7 linked regions of the Homo sapiens genome follow. The main gene of each other region encodes a partner of the protein of the gene in region 6 in a complex. Each region holds a gene or a part of one and is shown on either strand. Other genes may lie near its edges.

What was found.
Region 1: SNRPD1 (region 6) and SNRNP200 share a complex: the UniProt entries of both Homo sapiens proteins name them as parts of the U4/U6-U5 tri-snRNP complex.
Region 2: SNRPD1 (region 6) and SNRPG share a complex: the UniProt entries of both Homo sapiens proteins name them as parts of the SMN-Sm complex.
Region 3: SNRPD1 (region 6) and CRNKL1 share a complex: the UniProt entries of both Homo sapiens proteins name them as parts of the minor spliceosome.
Region 4: SNRPD1 (region 6) and GEMIN5 share a complex: the UniProt entries of both Homo sapiens proteins name them as parts of the SMN-Sm complex.
Region 5: SNRPD1 (region 6) and CRIPT share a complex: the UniProt entries of both Homo sapiens proteins name them as parts of the minor spliceosome.
Region 7: SNRPD1 (region 6) and GEMIN2 share a complex: the UniProt entries of both Homo sapiens proteins name them as parts of the SMN-Sm complex.

Annotation. Positions count from the first base shown.
Region 1 is NC_000002.12:96,288,547-96,292,046, forward strand, and holds part of SNRNP200 (U5 small nuclear ribonucleoprotein 200 kDa helicase), read right to left. Parts: intron 3,355-3,500; coding exon 3,205-3,354; intron 2,957-3,204; coding exon 2,846-2,956; intron 2,270-2,845; coding exon 2,138-2,269; intron 1,969-2,137; coding exon 1,780-1,968; intron 1,451-1,779; coding exon 1,253-1,450; intron 834-1,252; coding exon 681-833; intron 572-680; coding exon 491-571; intron 201-490; coding exon 117-200; intron 1-116. UniProt on the Homo sapiens protein: Catalyzes the ATP-dependent unwinding of U4/U6 RNA duplices, an essential step in the assembly of a catalytically active spliceosome. Plays a role in pre-mRNA splicing as a core component of precatalytic, catalytic and postcatalytic spliceosomal complexes.
Region 2 is NC_000002.12:70,287,241-70,290,740, forward strand, and holds part of SNRPG (small nuclear ribonucleoprotein G), read right to left. Parts: intron 2,133-3,500; coding exon 2,110-2,132; intron 953-2,109; coding exon 828-952; intron 132-827; coding exon of another isoform or gene 21-131; exon of another isoform or gene 1-20. UniProt on the Homo sapiens protein: Plays a role in pre-mRNA splicing as a core component of the spliceosomal U1, U2, U4 and U5 small nuclear ribonucleoproteins (snRNPs), the building blocks of the spliceosome.
Region 3 is NC_000020.11:20,042,467-20,045,966, forward strand, and holds part of CRNKL1 (crooked neck-like protein 1), read right to left. Parts: intron 3,061-3,500; exon of another isoform or gene 3,021-3,060; coding exon 2,842-3,020; intron 1,197-2,841; coding exon 1,026-1,196; intron 51-1,025; coding exon 1-50. UniProt on the Homo sapiens protein: Involved in pre-mRNA splicing process. As a component of the minor spliceosome, involved in the splicing of U12-type introns in pre-mRNAs.
Region 4 is NC_000005.10:154,890,062-154,893,211, reverse strand, and holds part of GEMIN5 (gem-associated protein 5), read left to right. Parts: intron 1-662; coding exon 663-825; intron 826-1,469; coding exon 1,470-1,971; intron 1,972-3,150. UniProt on the Homo sapiens protein: The SMN complex catalyzes the assembly of small nuclear ribonucleoproteins (snRNPs), the building blocks of the spliceosome, and thereby plays an important role in the splicing of cellular pre-mRNAs.
Region 5 is NC_000002.12:46,620,215-46,623,714, reverse strand, and holds part of CRIPT (cysteine-rich PDZ-binding protein), read right to left. Parts: intron 1-3,500. UniProt on the Homo sapiens protein: As a component of the minor spliceosome, involved in the splicing of U12-type introns in pre-mRNAs. Involved in the cytoskeletal anchoring of DLG4 in excitatory synapses.
Region 6 is NC_000018.10:21,622,314-21,625,813, forward strand, and holds part of SNRPD1 (small nuclear ribonucleoprotein Sm D1), read left to right. Parts: intron 1-411; coding exon 412-488; intron 489-1,434; coding exon 1,435-1,626; intron 1,627-3,500. UniProt on the Homo sapiens protein: Plays a role in pre-mRNA splicing as a core component of the spliceosomal U1, U2, U4 and U5 small nuclear ribonucleoproteins (snRNPs), the building blocks of the spliceosome.
Region 7 is NC_000014.9:39,131,323-39,134,397, reverse strand, and holds part of GEMIN2 (gem-associated protein 2), read right to left. Parts: intron 2,441-3,075; coding exon 2,330-2,440; intron 738-2,329; coding exon 679-737; intron 1-678. UniProt on the Homo sapiens protein: The SMN complex catalyzes the assembly of small nuclear ribonucleoproteins (snRNPs), the building blocks of the spliceosome, and thereby plays an important role in the splicing of cellular pre-mRNAs.

The sequences.
Region 1 (3,500 bases), on a different chromosome or scaffold from region 6:
TAAGCACTCCTCCCATCTCACTAGGGTCGGGCCTCCTTTCCCCAGGATGCACACAGCACACAGGGATTGAACTGTTCAGGCCCCTTCTCACAGCTGCCATACAACTCCGCTCTCACCTGTGTGACATACACCATGTCAGCCATCAGTGCAAAGCCCTCCAATTTCAGCTGTGAGATGAAGGCTTGCAGAAGAACGTTGATCTGTAAAGAAGCAAAATCAGCCAGCAGGAGACCAATCACTGAACAGTCCAAGAAAGGGAATTACATTTCTGCTCTGAGCATCCAGGCCAGGTGAGATTTGCTACAGGTCTTGATTTACAAATACTAAATAATTGTTATTTCATATAAAAAGAACATGCGAGAAGGCTGCAAAAACTAGGAGAACTGAGCAGGAAACCACACATGAACCCAAATTCAAGGTTCATCTTTTAGAAGATTATGAAAACCACTTAATCCTCATCCTTATCAAAGCAAAGAGGAGAGGAGCTCACCTTAGCACTGGGTTCCTCAATGCTCTCCTTTACAGGGATAGGCACCCTCTCCAGCAACTTCTGCAGCTCCAGCTTCTCCTCCTGCCACAAGGAGGAAAAGGTCAAGGGAAAGCCTTGTGGCCGAGGAGGGACACCATTCAGTGACTTGGTGAGCACCAACTCCCCGCCCCATCATGCTGCATAGGCTCACCTCTCTCACTGTGATGTTCTTGAACTCAGAGGACAATGAGAAGACCCTGAAAAGCTCAATCTCACTCAGGGTGGGCTTCAGCAGCTGGTTGTAAGTCTGCACTGTATCATTGGTGATGTAGTAGTGGCTGGCTATACGGCCCAGTTCTGTCACCTGGAGAGAAGGTAGACTCAATCCAGTGCTGACTATTAATGAGCTCCAACCTCTAACTGTGGACCATAAGTTACTGTCCTATAGGTTTTTTGTACTTTTTTTTTGGTAAAGTATATGACCCAATGTCATTATTGTCCTAATAGGACAACTGGATGAAGTCACAGCAGTACAAGTGCCAGGCCCAGGCACATGAAGAAAAACAGCAGAATAAGCTGACCCATAGTGAAATGATGTCTGCACGGACAAGACAGCTGAATTATCCACCTCAAGTTATGGGAAAAGCTACCCATTTTTCTGCTGTTCTAAGCAACAGGTGATTAGATAGGCAGTACTCACATCAAGAGAGCAATCTGAAAAATTTTTTCCTGGGCCAACAACTTTTGCTGAGACCTTTGCCTCAAAACCCTCACCCCACGCACCTGGAAGTTGCCCGTCTTCTTGTCGTACTTGACCAGATTGTTCTTGTCCAGCATCAGGGCAGCTGTATGAACCAGATCTAGTCGGCGCTGGTCCAGCAGGGGATCTCCCTTGAGGTCATCATGAGAGATGCCATAGAGGGTTGGGGATCGCAGCATTCGGATATAGAGGTAGGCATAGCCCAGCCAGTTCACCGCATCCTACAAGACACAGCTCATGGTTCTTAGCATGGAGAAACTCTTGATGTCCAAATGACAGGCTCCCATGAATTGCTTAGAAATTAATTCCCAACTACAAGGATGCATATTACATCGTATTCTGAATGTTTTTAGCATTTCATTATTAAAAAGATCTAAGCGTCTTCTAAGATCTTGGTAACAAGGGGAACTATCTGCCAGACCCAAGATGTGGGTGCAGGGATGGAAGGCCTCGGACGCTGCTGGCCCGCAGCACAATAGGGACCGACCCACTCCTGGTGCCTTGGTGTCTGCGGGGAAAGCATGAAGCACAACAAGCAGTCCTCCCCTACCTTGGCATTCTGGACATTTCCTAGCACGATTTCTGCATTGAGCATGTCAGGAAGCTTTGAAACCATCTGGCTTTCAATAGGAAGTTGTTGATTGAGGAGGGACAGGTAGTACTGTAGCTCCCCATGAGATGTGATGAGTATGCCTTCACCCTTGGTGTCATACTGGGGTCTTCCGGCACGTCCCAGCATCTAGATCAGAGACAGCGAACCAAGAATGCTATGTCAAGAGAATGTCTGAATTTTGATGCAGGTATCTACATTACAGAACTAGACCTCTGATCTGCTAGCTTTCCAGCATCCCTGCATTTCAGGCAAGGATACTGATCCCTGCTGAGAATAAACTCAAAAGGCTCTGTACCTGCAGAATGTCCAGTGCTCCCAGTTCTGTCCAACGCCCCTTCTCTGGACTGTACACCTGGGTGCCTTTGATGATGACTGTATGTGCAGGGAGATTCACACCCCAAGCTAGAGTTGCTGTGGAAACTAAAACCTACAGAGGCAAAACAAGGTAATGAGGAGAACAGATGCCATCACCAGGGGTTAATATCCCTGGCTTCTCTAGGCAGTTGGCCTCAGAGCTTCTCTCAGGACTAGCCGGTAGGGCGCGTGGGGTCCCAGTACTTGTCAATGTGACACCAGAATAAAGAGGAAAGGTTTCCTTGGGTTCCTCATCTATTCAGTAATGAACATTTCAAGGTTCCAGAGGCACAAGTGCAGACTTGTATTAAACAACCTTAAAGTTACTAGAAAAGGTAAAACAGAGCCTATCCGGAAAGAGGGAACGACAAGGGCACGCGTGCCCCCATGAGACACTGTTTGGAGCTATCTGAAGTCACCAAAGTGCTTGCTTCACTATGCTTCTCAGACTATCCTAAACTCAAGCAAGGTGGGAAGAGTTGGGAGAGTAGCATAAGGTTCTATTTATTGTGTCCACCACAACCCTCTGACCTGGGCTAGCTGGGCCAGAAGCAATAAAGTACCAGGAGCAAACATGGCACAAACTTGACATTGCCCATCTTCTGAAGTATGTCCCACCTGCTCCTCCAAACGCTTTGCACCCCCTCACCTGAATATGTTTATCAGCAAAAAGATCCTCCACGAGTGTTCGGTCAACCCTGGTCATGCCTGCGTGATGAATAGCAAAGCCATAAGGCAGAAGATCCTTCAGCTCTAGGTTCTGTGGAACAAAGAACCGGGGATGAGGCGAGCCTTCCTGTAGGACTCATCCAAGGACTAAGGAAATCTCCTCCCATGAGACCCTGCCCCTTAACTATTATGTGGAATAGTAATAATCACATCCAGACAATCAACCTTAACCCATGGGAAACAACAATACCACAGTACAGTCCTAGAGGAGCTGTCTGGGGCCTGAGATGGACACAGCTGCCAGGTAGGAATGAGAGAACCCAGCTGGCCCCTCCTCACCTTGCACTGCTCAGCTTCTGTTCGCAGGACTTCTGTGGAGGCTGAGCCCTCCCTCAGAAACAGACCCAGAGTGTCCTTTTCTAGGCACATGTCCCGGATGGCCCTGGCTGTCTTTCCAGTCTCCTTCCGGGAGTGGACAAACACCAGCACCTAAGGAGAAGCCACAGTTTGCTACAGTCACGAGATACTCACAGCCCCAGGGCACCTGCAGCAGGAAGCAGAAGTTGCACCATCACCACCAGAAGCCAAGGTCCTGGAGAGGGGCAAGGGCAGGAATGTGTGCAGGCTCAGAGGAA
Region 2 (3,500 bases), on a different chromosome or scaffold from region 6:
AGGCTAATAATTAGCAACTCTTACCACTCCTTGGAGGTCTTTATGCTTAATAATTTGCTAAAAGTAAGTTGTCCTTTTTGGTTCACCTTTTTCAAGAACTTTGGGCTTACCGCTTTATTAGGTATGTTGTCCTGTGTTAGACAAAGAGGGACTCAAAGTCTGGGTATCAAAACTCTTCTTCAGCAATCACTAAAACTACGGCCCAATGAATGTAGGAATGTTTAATCCTATGAGGGCTCAGTATGTGCTTATTTTTTCCTGCTTTTTCTCTCATGTGAATAACTGTCATTGTGATTATCCCTTGTAACTTTTACCTTGGCTACCTTAAAATTTTGGGTGTGGTAAACCAGAAAATCCAGGTTAACTATGTATACAAGTAAAATCAGAAAGTGTTACCTGTGAACTGGCAGATCTGCATTAGGCATTAGTAGAAATGCAAAACCTTAGTTAAGTTCTGCCCCATACCTACTGAAGTAGAATCTTCATTTTAAGAAGATTCCCTGGGGATTCATATACACATTAAGGTTTCAGAACTACTGCTCTAATGAAGGACCAACTATGAGCCTCTATTGCAGAATAAAGCTCAAAAAGGATTTCCAACAGCTATTTCAAGCGCTAGGACCTTAGGTTCTGTATAGTTGAGATCTTACCTACAGGTAACCAGGATATTACTACAGCTGAGTAACTGCCGTATGCAACTAAAAAGGAGATGGAAAGTCTAATCTTGCCTGTTATTTGCCATTTCTGGGGGTTACTAACCAGGAAAGTTAATACACATTCCAAAAGAAAAATGAAATCTCCAAGAGAACTCTTGTATCTTTACTTACCACCATTCCAATATTGTTCTGTTGTCCACTAGTCGCCATCTCCACACATTCATCTATCACAAGGTTCATAAAGGGATCAAATCCCCGCAATATTCCTTGGACATGTCTGCCACCATTTAATTTCACTATTAAAAAGAGAAAAAGAAGTTTTAGAAAAACATTCCATTAGCTACCAAGCATTCACTAAAAATCAGGTGGGATAAAACACAAGTATTTGAGATGTCTGAAACCCACTATCCTTACTGTATGACAAGAACTGGGTTAAACATTTTTGTATTTACTTCCACATTTTAATTTATAAGAATCCTAAAAAGTAGTATTATCCTTACTTTATAGGACAGAACTAAACTTCAGAGCTTTTTTAAAATTTTTATAAAGATGGGGGCTCCCTATGTTGCCCAGGCTGGTCTCGAACTCCTGGGCTCAAGGGATCCTCCCGCTTTGGCCTCCCAAAGTGCTGGGGGATTATAGGTGTAAACCACCGTGCCCGAGCTTTTAAGTAACTGGGTTCATGGTTATACAGCTACTGTACGACAGAAGTGAGATTCAAGCTGAAGGCTGCTTACCTCTAACGCTCATGGTTTTTTCCCCTACATATATTTCAAGTACTGTGTGGGTCAGATTTTTAGATAAATTGAACAAATGTTATTCCTACATATTCCCAAGAAACAAGATAACTGTTCCTTGTCTAAGTCCTTTGTAGCTTGTTTAAAGAAAAAAGGTTGATAAATCCTGTTAATTTTGCCAAAGTGAGGAAGGGCTTACATAAGATAAAGTCTGAAGTGCTGTTAAATTAATTATCAGAAATTAGGTAAATAAAATTGTCTAGTTAGGATTAAGTAATCTGCTTAACTAACGGATGTGAATTAGAGGTCCTGTGTGCTTTAAATTTTTTTTTTTTGAGACGGAGTCTAGCTCTATAGCCCAGGCTGGAGTGCAGTACCGCCATCTTGGCTCACTGCAAACTCCGCCTCCTGGGTTCATGCCATTCTCCTGACTCAGCCTCCCGAGTAACTGGGACTACAGGCGCCCGCCACTGCACCCGGCTAATTTTTTTTTGTATTTTTAGTAGAGACGGGGTTTCACCGTGTTAGCCAGGATGGTCTTGATCTCCTGATCTCACGATCCGCCTGCCTCGGCCTCCCAAAGTGCTGGGATTACAGCCGTGAGCCATCGCGCCTGGCTGCTTTAAATTTTTATAAAGTTGCTCCAAACATTGCTAAGACACATGTAAAAAGCAATTAAATAATTAAAAAAAACCCCAAAACAACAACAAACTTACATGATAACTTCTTGTCCATAAATCTGAAAAAGGAAAAGGGTAAAGATTATATAACCAATTAAAAAAATTTAAGCATAAACAAGTAAATAGGTATAGTTAAGATAATTTGCTAAAATTTATACAATGGGAATAATGAAATCTAAAATAGTAAAAATAATGTATTGCTGTAAAGAGTGAGGGAGTAGGGCGAGGTAGCTCACGCCTGTAATCCCAGCACTTTAGGGGGCTGAGGCGGGTGGACTGCTTGAGCTCAGGAGTTGAGACCAGCCTGGGCAACATGGTGAAACCCCATCTCTACCAAAAATACAAAAATTAGCTGGGGGTGGTGGCACATGCCTATGGTTCCAGCTACTTGGGAGGCTGAGGTCGGAGAATCACTGGAGCCTGCCACGTTGAGGCTGCAGTGAGCCATGATTGCGCCACTGCACTCCAGCTTGGGCAATAGAGCGAAACTGTCTCAGGGGAAAAAAAGAGTGGGGGCGTAAAGGGTTACCTAAATTAGACATTCTAGGAAGCAAAGTAATTTGGGAAGAGGAAAGGCAATAAAAATGAAACATATTTAGACTATATTAATTTACATTAAGTAGAGTATACTAATGTGAATTACATTCTTATTGTTCAATACTACGTTGTTTCATTGACCTAAATTTCTTTCTTTTTTTTTTTTTTTTTAAGAGATGGGAGTCTCATTATGTTGCCCAGGCTGGTCCTGAATTCCTGGCCTCGAAAAATATACTCCCCCTCAGCCTCCCAAAGTGCCGCTGGGATTACACAGGCATGAGCTACCACATCTGGTCTCATTGACCTAATTTTCAATGACTGGATTTTATAGTCACAAGAGAAAAACAAAGACTTGCCTATGTTTGGTTATTTCCAAAACTAAGTTGTAAAGACAGCAAACAGTAATCAAATCATATCCAATTCAATAGGTATTTTATATTTGAAATAAGTAGTGTTCTTTTATTTAATATTAAAGCATCAAGCATAAATGTTCAGGGTAGTCCTCAACATTTAAGTATATTTTAGAATAATAAATGCACATTTGAAACTTCAAACGATATGAATTAAAAAAAAATTCCATTTTAGTGGAATACGAGATTAAGCCATGCAGTCAAATCAGTTTTTAATTTCTTCCATATAGGCCAGAAAACATAAAATTTCATTCAATTTTAAAAATTTCATTCAAATTTTAAAATATAAAAAAATGAAAAAAAGATGTTTAGTATATGGGCCACGAAGTGGGGCACTTATTCAATTTTAATGTATAGGATTATCATGGGAAAATGTAAATATAAAACAAGGAGCATGACTGAAGGAGGGAGTAGATACATTTACAAGTAAAAATATATTTATGGGCTGGGCGCGGTGGCTCATGCTTGTAATCCCAGCAC
Region 3 (3,500 bases), on a different chromosome or scaffold from region 6:
TCTACCAAGCGCAAGTAATCAAACCATGCATCATAATTGTGTGGATTCGCCTAGAAAGACAACCAGTTTAATAAATAAAAAACAAAACCAAGAGCTGCACTTGCCAGGTTAAGCAAGCTGAAAAAAGGCATCAGGCTGACTTTCTATATTTTAGCACCTTTTCTTCTAAATGTTACATGTTCTTTCATTTTAAAAACACCATCCCTGAGACTGCATAAATAGAAAAGAAACAGGAATACAGAGGATAGATTACTGGCCAGGTGTCCCACAGCAAGGACTCCTTCATCTATAGCCATCACTCTCACGACAGTCAATAATTAGATGCCTATTCTTGCCAATGCATTTGCTTAAATATGTGACTATGTATCATTATGTCTGTAACAACAGAATCGTATCATGCTCACAATTGTTAAACTTGCCTTTCCAATTAATAGCAATTCATCTTTAACATATCTTGCTAACCTACCACCACATTTAATAACAGACTTAGTCCTTTGCTTGGAGGTATCTTAATTAACTTGACTAAGGAAGAGTATTTTTAAATACACAACAGAATACTGAAGGAAAATGACACTCTCTTTGAATTGAAATCAAAATAGTACATTACAGAAAAAGAGATGCCGATGGAACCCTGTCTAGCATACATCTTTTGTTCAGGCAGTTAAGCTCAAAGGTGATGTGCAAAACAGGTTTTTGGACCAATCTCTGACTCTTCCACCTTCTTCCAACAATGAGCTCGAATGGATTCCACATTTCTTTTGCTCCAGTTCTACATACAGTCAACAATCAACAAAACGACTTACAACATGTAAGTGGCAGAGCAAATCCAAGTGTTGTTTGCTTGCCTTTTCTATCAGCCTTGTTTATTCCTACTTGTCTGAAATAGCTGCCAATTGGATCACGGGCACATCATCACGAGAGTAATCACTAGTAGTGCTACTTGCTATTATTCATTTTAGTGTTGCTAGTATTGATGAGCACATCTTGGGTTATCTGCAGAGTTGACCATCCACACCAGTGCTCACCTTCACTTCTTCTTCGTACTGGAATCTCCGTTTGCTCACAATGATATCTTCAATACCCCGCCTATCACCAAACTTCTTCTCAAAGATGGTATAATTTTTAAAGAGTTCTTGGGCATCTTGTTTTGAAATTCTGTCCAGGGCATACTTGTAAATCACTCGTACCCTTTCAAACTAAATGCAGACAGGATGATTACCTTCTATAACACAATATTCTCATGCCAGTCACAACTAGGAGAGTAAATATAACAAAATATTACTTATAAGTTAGATTTTGAGGCCTCATAATATCCAGAGTAAGATGCTTTTCTCCCTCTTGTTGAAGGTTATCTCTGTCAGGATGGACCGGTACTCTGCTTTGAGCTCCATATTTAATACTGTCTACCTAACACTGCCAACTGGATGTCTACTGCACATCTCAAACAGGTCCAAAACTGAGCTTCTGTTTCCTCCCCACTCAAACTGGGACTCTCCCCATCTTCCCAATTTTAGTAGGCAAGGCCTAACCTACAGTCACTTGCTCAAGCCAAAACCTTCAGGTGATCCTCAATTCCTCTTTTTTCCTCATACTCCATATTCACTCTTGCAACATGCCCTACCATTTCAATCTCTTCCACACAGCCATTTGCTTCTCCCCAGCCCCCAGCCATCAAACTCCACTGTTCACCTGGCCCACTTCAAAAGTCTCCCCACTGGTCTCCCCTGGTTCCACTTTTGCCATCTACCCTCATACATTCTCCATGAATTAGCCAGAGGCTCTCCTTAAAATATAAATCATATCCAATCACTGTCCCGCTTAAAACCTTTCAATGCTTCCCACTGGCCCGAACAGAATCTGAACTCCCTAGCATGGTCCGTGCAAGACCTTATATAGGTTGAGTATCTCTTGTCTGAAGCATTTGGTATCAGAAGTGTTTTGGATTTGGGATGTTTCCCCAGTTTGGGAATATTTGCATTATACTTACTGGTTCAGCATCCCTAATCCAAAAACCCGAAGTCTGAAATGTTCCAATGAACATTTCCTTCGAGTGTCATGTCAGCACTCAACAAGTTTCACATTTTGAGTTTTGGATTTTCAGACTGGGAATGCTCAAACCTGTATTTGGATGGATCTCAATTCTGTATTATTTGAACTCCCTTTTTTTTTAAGAAATGGGGTCCTGCTCTGTCACCCAGGCTAGAGTGCAATGGCACGAACATAGCTCATTGTAGTCTCAAACTCCTAGGCTCAAGTGATACTCCTGCCTCAGCTTCCCAAGTAGCTGGGACTGTAGGTGTGCACCACTATGCCCACTCAATTTTTTTTTTTAGAGACAGGGTCTCACTATGTTGCCCAGGCTGGTCTCAAACTCCTGGCCTCAAGTGATCCTTCTGCCTCATCTTCTCAATATTTGAGCTATTTTCATAGGTACAAGGGAAAAAAAGAACTCTCTTATTTGTAGGGCAATCTCTGTTTCCATTCTAAATGTTTTCTGTTCTAGGGCTTTAAGCTTTTTGTTTCCCATATTTATTATCGGTTAAGTCCTTTACTTAGGATGCCAAAAGACTAGTTCTCAGTTTACGGGCATTCAGACTAAAAGGCTTAATTTTCAAACAAAGCACAATAAAATTAAGACAGTTATAATACAATCTATAATCAGCTCCCATCTGTAGCTTAGTCACATATATATGCTGTTCTCTGTGAGAAGCTGTGTTTTTGTATTTTGAAAACATCTTTCCAGGGATATGTCAGTAAGAAAAAATGGAAATGAACTCACCATGCACAAAATGTAATCTTTGCTAAGCTGTTTTACAGTATAATGAAGTTAGGTATACTTACCTCTTTCTGATTTTCTTCAAACTTGGCAAAGGCAACATAAAGGTGCTCATCCATATGTTCATCTCCAAAGAATTCCACAGCTCTCTCATACACTTTCCGTGCATGGGCAAAATAAGCATGTTTTTCTTCAAAGCGGGCATACTTGATCCAGTTCTTAACATCAGGGTGCACGAGGACAAGTGCAAGGGAATTAAGGAAATCCCAGGCAAAACAGCATGGCTTAAAAAAATAGTAAGTAAGTAAACACCAAAACCATACCAAAGCCTGGAAACTCCAAAAATTCAAACTACAACTCTAGGGGAACAAAACACATACAAAAGTGTAGAATTAAACAGTGGCTTCTGTGAGAGCAGGGCCACGCCTGTTCATCTCTATTTTCCTCCAGTGCTTAGTTAAGATTTTAGTGGTGGGTATAAACTCGAGTTGGAAGCAAAGAAAAATCTCAACCCAGGTTACCAACCATGTGATCTTGGATAAGTCACTGAACTTAGACGTCTAAGTCTCAGCTGTTTCATTTGTAAACAGGGAAAAATAATGCCAGCCTCACTGGATTACTGCCAGCTTTAAATGAGAAAATGTATGTAAAGCCCTTAGCACAGTTTCTAGCCAAAAGAACATGGCACCGTAAGCGGTCAATAATGGTCTGGTCATTAAATAGC
Region 4 (3,150 bases), on a different chromosome or scaffold from region 6:
CAAAGTGATGGGGTTATAGGTGTGAGCAACTGCACCCAGCCTTTATTTTGTTTTTAATTACAGCTTTTAGTTCCAGAAACTCACTTTTTGTTTTTGTTGTTTGTTTGTTTGTTTTGAGAGGGAGTCTCACTCTCATGCTCAGACTGGAGTGCAGTGGCGCAATCTCAGCTCACCACAACCTCCACCTTCCGGGTTCAAGCAATTCTTCTGTCTCAGCCTCCCGAGTAGCTGGGACTACAGGCACGCGCCATCATGCCTGGCTAATTTTTGTGTTTTTAGTAGAGGCGGGGTTTCACCATGTTGGCCAGGCTGGTCTTGAACTCCTGACCTTGTGATCTGCCCACCTTGGCCTCCCAAAGTGCTGGGATTACAGGCATGAGCCACCGCGCCTGGCCCACTTTTTGTTTTAATTAAATGCAAATGTAAAGGTGTTTTCTCAGTGTGAACAGACTTTAACACCGGGACGTGTGTGTGCTGCTGTGCAACTAGACATGAGAGTTTCCGATGTGGGAAGCAAAAATGGGTGGCGGAGACAAGAGGAACTTTCAAAGTGTGAATTGTGTGTACTTGTTTCCAAATGCGGTTCACAGGAACAGTTTGGTGGCATCCTCTGCGCCTACCGTGGGAGGATGTTTAACTCAGACTCTGGCTTCTCTCTCCAGCTCCTGCTTCACATTTGCCATGACTTGACCCTGGCAGTGCTGAGCCAACAGATGGCCTCCTGGGACGAGGCTGTGCAGGCGCTCCTTCGGGCGGTGGTCCGGAGCTATGACTCAGGGAGCTTCACCATCATGCAGGAAGTGTACTCAGCCTTTCTCCCTGACGGTAAGTGACTTCCTGCTGCCTGAGGCACACCCTTTAATGGACAACATCACCACCATTAGTGGTGTGGCACTGGGAGTACCTAGATTCTTAAAAGATGGAGATTGGCCAGCTGTGTCATTTTAGTAGAAAGTTTGGATTCTCTTACCGAAGCTTTTAAGAACAACTATACTGTTTCCTTTACCTGGCCCTACCCTCTTACAGCCTCCTGTCCACTTTCCACAAAGTTTAAGGGAGAGAGAAATAGGAATGTAGTTACATGTTAGTAAGAACAGAAAAGAACAGCAAAAAAGATAGACATTCCTTGGGCTGCATAGTCAGTCACTGAACTAAATCATTGTGATTTTTCAGAGAGACAGTGTGATCTGTTGTCGTGGCCCCAGAGCCTTCAGTAGTACAAATGGAATACTCTATCATGCTTTGAATGACTCCTAGGATGTAGTAATGAGAACACTGTCGCAAGCCAGGAAATGTTTAGCCTCCAGTTGGCTCTTGGTGGAAAGGCATGTGGCCCGGTGGATCACACTGTTGTCCTTTTTCCTGGGGTCTGCTTCTTGGTTGATAAGAAATAGAACATAAGGGCAGGAAGCCACATTTCTGGCAACTAGAGAAATGCATGACCCAGTATCTTTTTCCTCTTTTCCTAGGCTGTGACCACCTAAGAGACAAGTTGGGGGACCATCAATCCCCTGCCACACCAGCTTTCAAAAGTTTGGAGGCCTTTTTTCTTTATGGGCGTCTGTATGAATTCTGGTGGTCTCTCTCCAGACCTTGCCCAAATTCCAGTGTCTGGGTAAGGGCTGGTCACAGAACACTCTCTGTTGAGCCAAGCCAGCAGTTAGACACTGCCAGCACTGAAGAAACGGACCCTGAAACTTCTCAGCCAGAGCCAAACAGGCCTTCAGAACTAGACTTGAGACTCACAGAAGAAGGTGAGCGAATGCTGAGTACTTTTAAGGAGCTCTTTTCAGAAAAGCATGCCAGTCTCCAAAACTCACAGAGAACTGTTGCTGAAGTCCAAGAGACCTTGGCAGAAATGATCCGACAACACCAAAAGAGTCAACTCTGTAAATCCACAGCAAATGGTCCTGATAAGAATGAACCGGAAGTAGAAGCAGAGCAGCCCCTCTGCAGTTCTCAGAGCCAGTGGTAAGTACTGAGGCAAGTACAAGACGGAATGAAAAATGACCCTGCTGGCTAGGAACAGTGGTTCATGCCTATAATCCCAGCACTTTGGGAGGCTGAAGCAGGAGGATCACTTGGCCCAGGAGTTCACCACCAGCCCGGGCAAAAAAGCGAGACCCTGTCTCTACAAAAAAAAAAAAAAAAAAAAAGCCCGGGCACAGTGGATCACGCTTGTAATCCCAGCACTTTGGGAGGCCGAGGTGGGCAGATCACTTGAAGTAAGGAGTTTGAGACCAGCCTGGCCAACATGGTGAAACCCCGTCTCTACTAAAAATTAGCTGGGTATGGTGGCACATGCCTGTAATTCCAGCTACTTGGGGGGCTGAGGCCAGAGAATCGTTTGAACCTGGGCAGCAGAGGTTGCAGTGAGTCAAAATCGCACCAGTGCACTCCAGCCTGGGCAACAGAGGGAGACTTCATCTCAAAAAATACAAATAAAGTAACCAGGTGTGGTGGCATGTACCCTGTAGCTACTTAGGAGGCTGAGGCAGGAGGATCACTTGAGGCCAGGAGCTCAAGTTCAGCCTGGGCTACATATTGAGACCCTGTCTCTAGAAAAATTAATTTTTTTAAATTAGCCAGTAGTGGTGGCATGCACTTGTAGTCCCAGCTACTCAGGAGGCTGAGGTGGGAGGATCACTTAAGCCCAGGAGTTCGAGGCTGTAGTGAGATACGATCATGCCACTCATACCAGCCTGGTTGACAGACCCTGTCTCTACAAAAAAAAAAAAAAAAAATTAAATTTTAAGAAGCCAGGTGACAAAGGAATTTTATTTATAAAATGAGATAAAAGTAACCCAGGCAGGGGCATATGCTCTCAGGGCCTCCTGAGGGCTGTGTCATAGGCAAAAGTTTAAATTTTTAAAAAATATTAAAAATAAAAGGTAAAAGCTACCCAGGCATAACAAAAGATAATCCAATTCAAGGATGGGCAAAGGACTTGAATAGACATTTCTCTAAAAAGCCAGTAAGCACAGGAAATGATGCTCAACATCTCATCATTGGGGAAATGCAAATCAAAACTACAGTGAAGCAGCACTTCATAGCCATTAGGCTACTATCAGAGAAACAGAACAAGTGTTGAGGAGGATGCAGAGACATTGGAACCCTTGTGCCTATTGGTGGGAATGTAAAATGATGCAG
Region 5 (3,500 bases), on a different chromosome or scaffold from region 6:
TCTTAAATAACCCCACTTACGCAACACACAGGATTAATCCATGCTCTCCATCCCTCCATCAACCTCTACAATTGATGGGTTTAGCCTATTCCAGATGGCTACTGTCTGATATGCCTGTACATCTCTGCTCTGCTCCATCCATGTGAGATATATACTTATAAAGAATCAGTTGTACAGTATTTATTCTTGACGTGTTCATATCAGTCGTATCTGTCATTCTATTTGTGTGACATAAATATTATGGAAACTGATGAAATGTGGGTGCAAAAAGAGTGACTGATTCCATATAACCTAAGTGACTATTTTAGGATGACTAGGAATCATATGAATTGCTATTGAATTAGGTATGGGTAAGACAACTGTTGAAAACTGGGGGAAAATCACTAGGAAAGTAACTCCACACCTCAAGCATCAATTTTTGCTCTACTTTAAAGAAACTGAACATATTCTGATTGTGATTTTTGTGACGACAATCATGTAAAGCACTTATCAGTCGATTTATGCTCAAAAGGCTTTGTTTCAATACCAAATGATTAATGCATCTACAGTTATGCGCTTTAATTTAAAATAAAGTATGTGTATCTTTTAATGACTGCTTACATTAGCTGACATTTTTAATTAACTGACTCAATCCTTTTAGATAAAAGGGCTTCCACTATATAAAAATGCCATCTTATAGTGACAGGAGTGAAAAAAAGAAATACTTTCCCCTAAAATGGCAATAATACTCTGATTTAAATGTGCTTCCCTAACATTTTTACAAAATGAGTTTTTGTAATGATCCTCATATACTAGATACGAAACACCGTCCTAGAACTGGTGTCTTCTCTTGGGTATAGTACAACAGCCCATTTACAAAGGTTAATTTTTCCAAACACAGAGAATATCACTTTTTTTTTTTTGAGACTGAATCTCACTCTATCGCCCAGGCTAGAGTGCAATGGCGCAATCTTGGCTTACTGCAACCTCTGCCTCCCAGGTTCAAGCAATTCTCCTGTCTCAGCCTCACAAGTAGCTGGGATTACAGGCATGCGCTACCACGCCCGGCTAATTTTGTATTTTTAGTAGAGATGGGGTTTCTCCATGTTGGTCAGGCTGGTCTCGAACTCCCAACCTCAGGAGATCCGCCTGCGTTGGCCTCCCAAAGTGCTGGGATCACAGGCGTGAACCACTGCGCCCAGCTGAGAATATCACTTTACTCCCCACAAAAGATAGGTACTCTTCTTCCTTTCAATAAGTTCAATTTGTTTGGACATGTATTTCCAGAGGCTATTTTTTCTTAAAACCATATTTTATTATTCAAAAATACACATTGTAACCTTGGAAATCTTTTTTTTTTTTTTTTGAGACGGAGTCTCGCTCTGTCGCCCAGGCTGGAATGCAGTGGCGCAATCTCGGCTCACTGCAAGCTCTGCCTCGTAGGTTCATGCCATTCTCCTGCCTCAGCCTCCCGAGTAGCTGGGATTACAGGTGACCGCCACCACGCCCGGCTAATTTTTTTGTATTTTTAGTAGAGACAGGGTTTCACCATGTTAGCCAGGATGGTCTCGATCTCCTGACCTTGTGATCCGCCTGCCTCGGCCTCCCAAAGTGCTGGGATTACAGGCGTGAGCCACCGCACCCGGCCTAACCTTGGAAATCTTAAAACTGGCAGAGTTTTTTCTTAAAGTAACAATGCATCTTATAAATAACAGTACCATAGATTCCAAGCAATACTGTAGTACATTTTCCAAAGTAAGAGAGTACCCAAGAGTTACAGCTACTTTTTAATGATATCAGAGTAAGTTTGAGAGCATAAAGGAACTGGAAGTATATAAAAGCATAAAATCTGTACAAATAATAGCTCAGTCAATAAAAACAGAATGGTTCTCAAAGACCTCAATAAGTCAGTCAATAATATATAGTGTGAATCTGCATTAAAGATGCTATTATGTGCTAGGCACTGTATGTAGTTAAGGCTTTATTGTTGTTATTTCTAATCCTTGGGATGACATCAGAAAACAGGTATTTATTCATTCAGCAAATATATACTGAGTGCTTAATATTACATGGTATTTACTGTTCTAAATACCAAAGATGAACATGATAGGCAAAGCCCTTGCCCTCATCAGATAATATTGTAGTGAGAAGAGGTAAACAGTAAGTAAGGAAACAGACAATCTAATAAAACAAGCAAGGTTTTCAAATAGTAGTATTATAGAGAAAATTCTAACAGGATACTAAGGCAGAGATGAGGAAAAGGAAAGAAGAGATTAGTTTAGATGCTGATTAGGGAAACTTCTCTGAAGCTGAGACCCAAACAGCAAGAAGGAGGCAGATACGTAAGCTCTAACGGAAGACTCCTAGGAGACAGCAGCAAGTACAAATCTCTTTGGATGGGAGTGGGCTTGGCAGAACTAATAAAGACAGCATATGATGAATGAGGAGCAGTGTGGTACAATACGAAGCCGGAGAGGTGGGAGGGGTCATATTAAGGAGGACCTTGTAAGAACATGGTAGGGGGCTTAAATTTTATTCTATGTGAAAAAGAAAACCAGTGGCGGATTTTAAGCAAAGGAACTTTGTAAAGGATCACTCTCGTTACTATGAGACAACTGCGGGAAACTAGAGAAGCAGGAAGATAGTTCAATAGTTATTACAGTTCCAAGTAAGAAATAACAGTGGTTTGGAAAAGGGTAATAGCAGTGAGATGTACAGAAGCAGGTGGTTTCAGGTTACATTTTACGTTTTGGAGGTAGATCCAAAGAACTTGCTGATGGATAGGGGAAGTAGGGGAAAGGGAGGACTCAGTGAGGAATTCTAGCTTTTAGGCTTGAACAAGTGGATTAGAGAGTGGTGCTACTATGATGAGAAGACGGAAGGAAAAAGAAGTGGCCTGTTAGACATTAAATGAGGTATGTCAGATAAACTGCTAGATATACGTTTAGAGCTCAGAGAAGTCAGGCCAGAGGTATAAATTTGGGAGTTATATATATATAATAATATTATAATATATATATAATAATATTATTACATATATATATATATAACATATAGCTTGAATTTAAAGCCAGTAGATTGAAGTCACTCTAAAAGGTCACTTGTGATCTCGACAAGAACAGTTTCAGGGCTGTTGTGGGGATAACACATGACTAGAGTGGCTGAAGGAGGGAAAGGAACTTAAGGACACTGAAAAAGTGTCTAGGTAAGACTTTGGAAAACTTCTGATGTGAAGGGGAGCAAAGAAATCAGATGGCAGATGAAAGGGTTCACGAAATTTTTTTTCTGAAAGAGACTCTCACTCTGTCAACCCAGGCTGGAGATCAGTAGTGCGATCCTGGCTCACTGCAGCCTTGACCTCCCTGGGATCAAGTGATCCTCCCACGTCTGCCTCCTGAGTAGCTGGGACTACAGGCGCGTGCTGCCACACCCAGTTAATTTTTCTGTCCTTTGTAGGACAGGGTTTCACATGTTGCCCAGGCTGCTCTCAAACTCCTGGGCTCAGATAATCTGTCTGCCTT
Region 6 (3,500 bases):
TATTTTTTAGTAGAGACGGGGTTTCACCATGTTAGCCAGGATGATCTCGATCTCCTGACCTCGTGATCCGCCCGCCTTGGCCTCCCAAACTGCTGGAATTATAGGCGTGAGCCACCACGCCTGGCCTATTTCTTTTTCATGGTTTATAATGAGTCTAAGATCTTGTATGTCTGGATTTCAGGTTTGAGAATTAGAAACGTCCAAATGACAGTTTATGTTAGTATTGTTGTGTTCCTTCATAAAGGTTGAGGATATAATTCAGGAAAGCTGAAATTGTTATGCAGATTATTGATAGGAATTGATGCAGATAGCATCTAGCAAATTTTCAACATCGAGTTGTTTCACCCTTTCACCTTAATAAATGTGATTTTAAAGTGTTACAGGTAAAAATGGTTTTATTCCTATTTATAGATTTTTGATGAAATTGAGTCATGAAACTGTAACCATTGAATTGAAGAACGGAACACAGGTCCATGGAACAATCACAGGTACGGAGGTTGGACTGCTTTTATAACATTTTTTTTCTTCTCTTTTACCTAGCCAGAGTTTATTTTTTTATTGCTTAATGAACATTATTGTAGTACAAATCCTTATTTTTTTTGTCTGAATTATGTAATTTTTTTTTTTTTTTTTTAAACAGTTTTGCTCTGTCACCTGGGCCGGAGTGCAGTGGCACGATCTCAGCTCACTGCAACATCCGCCGCCTGGGGTCAAGCAATTCTCCTGTCTCAGCCTCCCAAGTAGCTGGGACTACAGGTGCCTGCCACCATGCCCGGGTAAATTTTTTTTTTAGACGGATTCTCACTCTGTTACCCAGGCTGGAGTGCAGTGGCACAATCTCAGGTCACTACAACCTCTGCCTCCCGGGTCCGGGTTGAAGCAATTCTCCTGCCTCAGCCTCCCAAGTAGCTGGGGTTATGGGTGCGTGCCACCACACCCAGCTAATTTTTTATATTTTTGGTAGAGACGGGGTTTCATCATGTTGGCCAGGTTGGTCTCGAACTCCTGACCTCATGATCCATCTTAACAAAAGCAGTAACAATTCTTATATACAGAGAGAAGCAGAAACAAAGGTGAGGATAGTTTGGTGGAATGGGGATTATGAGGAAGTTACAAAGACAGTGGGAGAAACATGAAAGAAATACCTGTCACATCAGTAGTGAGCCTAAAGCCCAGTCAGGGTTCTTCCATGGCTTGCTGCATTCACTTCTGTAAGCAAAACATTAGTGTGCTAGGAAAAATCTCTAGGAAGGAAACACTGCTGACATTCCCCCATTTACCAGTTGCACATGTGCTAAATTGTGTCATAGAAAACTTGCACTTTGTAGAAGAACAGTAATCTTTTGTAGTCCAGTATTTACTGTGGCTCAGTAGATTAATTAGTTGCCTTAACTTGTATCATACTAATAACTGCACAATTATTTTCCTCTTTAGGTGTGGATGTCAGCATGAATACACATCTTAAAGCTGTGAAAATGACCCTGAAGAACAGAGAACCTGTACAGCTGGAAACGCTGAGTATTCGAGGAAATAACATTCGGTATTTTATTCTACCAGACAGTTTACCTCTGGATACACTACTTGTGGATGTTGAACCTAAGGTGAAATCTAAGAAAAGGGAAGCTGGTAAGTTTGAAGGATTATAAACATTTTTGTGAATGCTAATCCTAATCCACACTATTCATAATATAGATATTATTTGCAAACAACACAAGTGTCTTTGTTGTTTAATATTTCCTATAGTATGTATAGTAATTCTTGGTGTTGCTATTAAAAACATTGAGCAACCGGACGCAGTGGCTCACGCCTATAATCCCAGCACTTTGGGAGGCCAAGGCGGGTGGATCACGAGGTCAGGAGTTCAAGACCAGCCTGGCCAACATGGTGAAGCCTCATCTCTACTAAAAATATAAAACTTAGCTGGGCATGGTGGCGGGTGCCTGTAATCCCAGCTACTCGGGAGGCTGAGGCAGGAGAATCGCTTGAACCCAGTAGGCGGAGGTTGCAGTGAGCCGAGATCTCACCACTGCACTCCAGCCTGGGTGACAGAGCCACTGTCTCAAAAAAAAAAAAAACCAAACAACAAATATCGATGTGGTCGGGCAGGGTGGCTCACACCTGTAATCCCAGCACTTTGGGAGGCCAAGGTGGGCAGATCACCTGAGGCCAGGAGTTCCAGACCAGCCTGGTCAACATGGCGAAACCCCCTCTCTACTAAAAATGCAAAAAAAATCAGGCGTGGTGGTGCGTGCCTTTAGTCCCAGTTACTCGGGAGGTTGAGGCAGACGAATCACTTGAACCTGGGAGGTGGAGGTTGCTGTGAGCCAAGATCACGCCACTGCACTCCAGCCTGGGCTACAGAGTGAGACTTTGTCTCAAAAAAAAAAAATATATATATATATATATGATTGTAATCCATAGCTTGAAAAACAATGATTTAATCTCTCTCTCGGTCCTTTATCTCATGCTGCTTTCCACTTTAAAAAAACCCCCTGTGGGTACCAAAATCTACAGATTCTTAAGTCCCTTTTCATAAAATGGTAGTAGTGTTTCAGTGCACATCCTTTTGTACCCTTTAAATCATCTCTAGATTACTTGTAATACCTAGTATAATGTAAATGCTCTGTAGATAGTTATACTGTATTGTTTAGGCGTTAATGACAAGAAAAAGTCTGTATGTGTTTAGTACAGATACAACCATCATAGGCCTAAACTACATTTTTGATCCTCAGTTGGTTAAATCCATGGATGTGCAACCCATGGATATTGAAGGCTGGCTGTATTTTCAAATCTGAGGATGTTTTGCTTTAATGTCGTTAGGGTTATTCTACATTTTTTTTTTTACTACCTACCTACCTGTCGGGGAATTGATGATTGAAAGCCCCCCGCCTCATATCATCTTACTCCACGCTTCTGAATCTTAGATTTTTCAGAAGTTATTCTTCCTTTACTAAATGTTACAGTTCCCAGTCTACTTTCTATTTAAAATTTTGTTGAAAAAAATTTTTTTTTTTTTTTTTGAGATGGAGTTTCGCTCTTGTTAGCCAAGCTGGAGTGCAGTGGCAGGATCTCAGCTCACTGCAACCTCTGCCTCCTGGGTTCAAGCGATTCTTCTGTTTCAGCCTCCCAAGTAGCTGGGATTATAGGTGTGTGCCACCACACCCAGCTAATTTTGTATTTTTAGTAGAGGTGGGGTTTCATCCTGTTGGTCAGGCTGGTCTCATACCCCTGACCTCAAGTGATCCACCCGCCTCGGCCTTCCAAAGTGCTGGGATTACAGGCAGGAACCACCGCGCCCAGCCGAAATCTTTTTTTGAGATGGACTCTCACTCTGTCGCCCAGGCTGGAGTGCAGTGGCGCGATCTCGGCTCACTGCAAGCTCCGCTTCCCGGGTTCACACCATTGTCCTGCCTCTGCCTCTCCAGTAGCTGGGACCACAGGCGCCTGCAACCACGCCCGGCTAATTTTTTGTATTTTTAGTAGAGACGGGGTTTCACCGT
Region 7 (3,075 bases), on a different chromosome or scaffold from region 6:
AAATTACAAAAATTAGCCGGGCATGATGGCAGGTGCCTGTAAGCCCAGCTACTTGGGAGGCTGAGGGGGGAGAATTGCTTGAACCCAGGAGGTGAAGGTTGTAGTGAGCCGAGATGGTGCCATTGCACTCCAGCCTGGGCAACAGAGCGAGACTCTGTCTCAAAACAAAACAACAAAAAAAGTTTTCAAATAAATTCCAAGAAGAATTTCTATGTAAGAAATGAAATAAAACAGATACTAAATAAAAATATGCCACAACTGAAAATGAACGCAGGACACAGGCAATTAAACAAAAATGCAGGCTGAATGCAGTGGCTTTACACCTGTAATCCCTGCACTTTCGGAGGCTTAGGTGGGAGGATCGCTTGAGCCCAGGAGTTTTGAGACCAGCCTGGGCAACATAGTGAGACCCTGTCTCTACGAACAATTTTTTTTAATTAGCCAGGTGTGGTGGTGCTTGGTTGTGGTCCTAGCTACTCAGGAGGCTGAGGTGGGAGGATTGCTGGAGCCCAGGAAGTTAAAGCTCTAGTGAGCTGTGATTGCGCCACTGCACCCTAACTATAGCAACAGAGTGAGACTCAAAAAAAAACCAACCAAACAAAAACCAAATGTAATAAATACGATCTAACCTCACTGACCTCACTGATAAATAATAAAGAAGCCAAGGATTAACTATACCTGCTAACCAAGCAGATTAATAAATTCAAAGCAGGAACCCTCTCATCATCTTTGCTATCCTAAAAAAAAAAAAAGAAAAATTTAAATATTGTCTGTTCCTATTACTTTTGAAATAAATTTTCTATTAAGATGTAAAACACGAAACATGAAAACTTTATTATATGACAGTAATCATCATGTGGAAATAGGAGCCCTCAAAGAAAAAGCAGAGAACTGTAGAGTTAATGATTCCTTGAGAAACATCTAAGACTATCTTTTAAATAAAGATTCTGAATAGGGAAAAAAAAATAAAGAGGGATCTAAGGGGGATAACTTGGGGGAAATTTTTCCCTGGTTCCTACTAAAGGAACAATAAGAATCCTGTGTCTTAACTGTACAGTGATGAATATATATATATATATTCATATATATTATATATGTGTCTTAACTGTAGTGAATATGTATTCATATATAATAAATATATATTAATATACATATATGAATAAATATATTTATCACTGTAGTCAAGACACAGGATTCTTATTGTTCCTCTATATAATGCATACAATATATGTGAGGATATATATAGAATATATATGAATATATATAATATATATTAATCACTGTACAGTCAAGACACAGGATTCTTACTGTTCTTATATATATTCATTACTGAATTATATAAAGATATATATATAAAGATATATATATATACACACACACACACACACATATATATACACACACACACACACACACACACACCAGGTGCAGTAGCTCATGCCTGTAATCCCAGCACTTTGGGAGGCTGAGGCAGGTGGATCACTTGAAGTCAGCAGTTTGAGACCAGTCTGGCCAACATGGTGAAACCCTGTCTCTACTAAAAATACAAAAATTAGCCAGGCATGGTGGCGGGCACCTGTAATCTCAGCTACTCTGGAGGCTAAGGCAGGAGAATTGCTTGAACCTGGGAAGCGGAGGTTGCAGTGAGCCGAGACCGCACCATTGCACTCCAGCCTCGGTGACAGAGCGAGACTCCATCTCACAATAAAAGAAAAAAAAAAAAAAAAAAAAAAGGCTGAAGCTACAGCAGCCATCTTGGATCATAAGATGAGCATGAGGATGAAAGCCACATATGACAAAACTCAAAGGTGTGGGTGGGTTACTGCCATCTTAGTAAAAATCTAATTTTTTTACCTACTTCTTTTTTGAGACAGAGTCTTGCTCTGTTGCCCAGGCAGGAGTGCAGTGGTGCAATCTCAGCTCACTGCAACCTCCGCCTCCTGGGTTCGAACGATTCTCCTGCCTCAGCCTCCTGAGTAGCTGGGATGACAAGCACCCACCACCACACCCAGCTAAATTTTGTATTTTTAGTAGAGACGGGGTTTCACCATGTGGGCCAGGTTGGTCTCAAACTCCTGACCTCAGGTGAGCCACCCGCCTCAGCCTCCCAAAGTGCTGGGATTATAGGTGTGAGCCACCACGCCCGGCTCAGACTTCTTTATCTCAGAAAACATTTCCATATTATTTAAGCTACTATTATTTTGGGCTTTACAAATCTAATTGCCACCAATAAAATATTCCATGTGTTTTCCTATTTCACTGAACTCCTTCTTTACCACCATATAAATTGGTGGGTGCTTTTAATTTTAAACAGTAAGTTGCAACTTACCACTAAGAGCCTCACTTCAGAGCACCTTCTTGCAAGCTGCCGAATCAGTGAATGAGCCTCAGGTAACAAAGGCTTTTCAAGACAAGCCAATAAAGCATAAAGCCATCTTCCCTAAAAAAAAATTCAAAAAATTAATATTTAGACAAATACTGAACCAGAAGTTTATTTTTTAAATGTCCAATGTTATGCCTGATTATCTGCTATGAATAAATTCATAGAACATTTAACTATATTATGTTTGGGTATAGACAAGAAAGCCTCATTTGGAGAGCCAGGTGTTATCTCTTGTATCCTATAATTACAGACACAGGACATTGGATACCTCAAAATATTCCCTGATCTCCAAAGAGTTTGTTTCAGATATTCTTATGATAGGAAGTTCTCATTTGTAAGCAGAACACTACATTAAGATGAATATAAATACTGGAAAAAATTAAGATACATTTTTTTCTTTGTTCTGTATGGACAGATATAGAAATCATTTTATAATTGTATAATTTTGTCCTCTGGGGACATACAAAGAAACTATACTACAGATGAAATAATCTTTTGACACTTTTATAAATACTTTGACAGGCTCAATGTATCCCCACTCCCTTTTAAAATGGGGTTTTCAGCTACAAAATGAATACATATTTGATGCAGAAAAACTGTGAAGAATACCACAAGCACAAGAAAAAACCTGCAGTCCCAACATTCCAGATCAAACTTTGATTCACTTTAAAAATGTTCTTGTTTTTCCTATT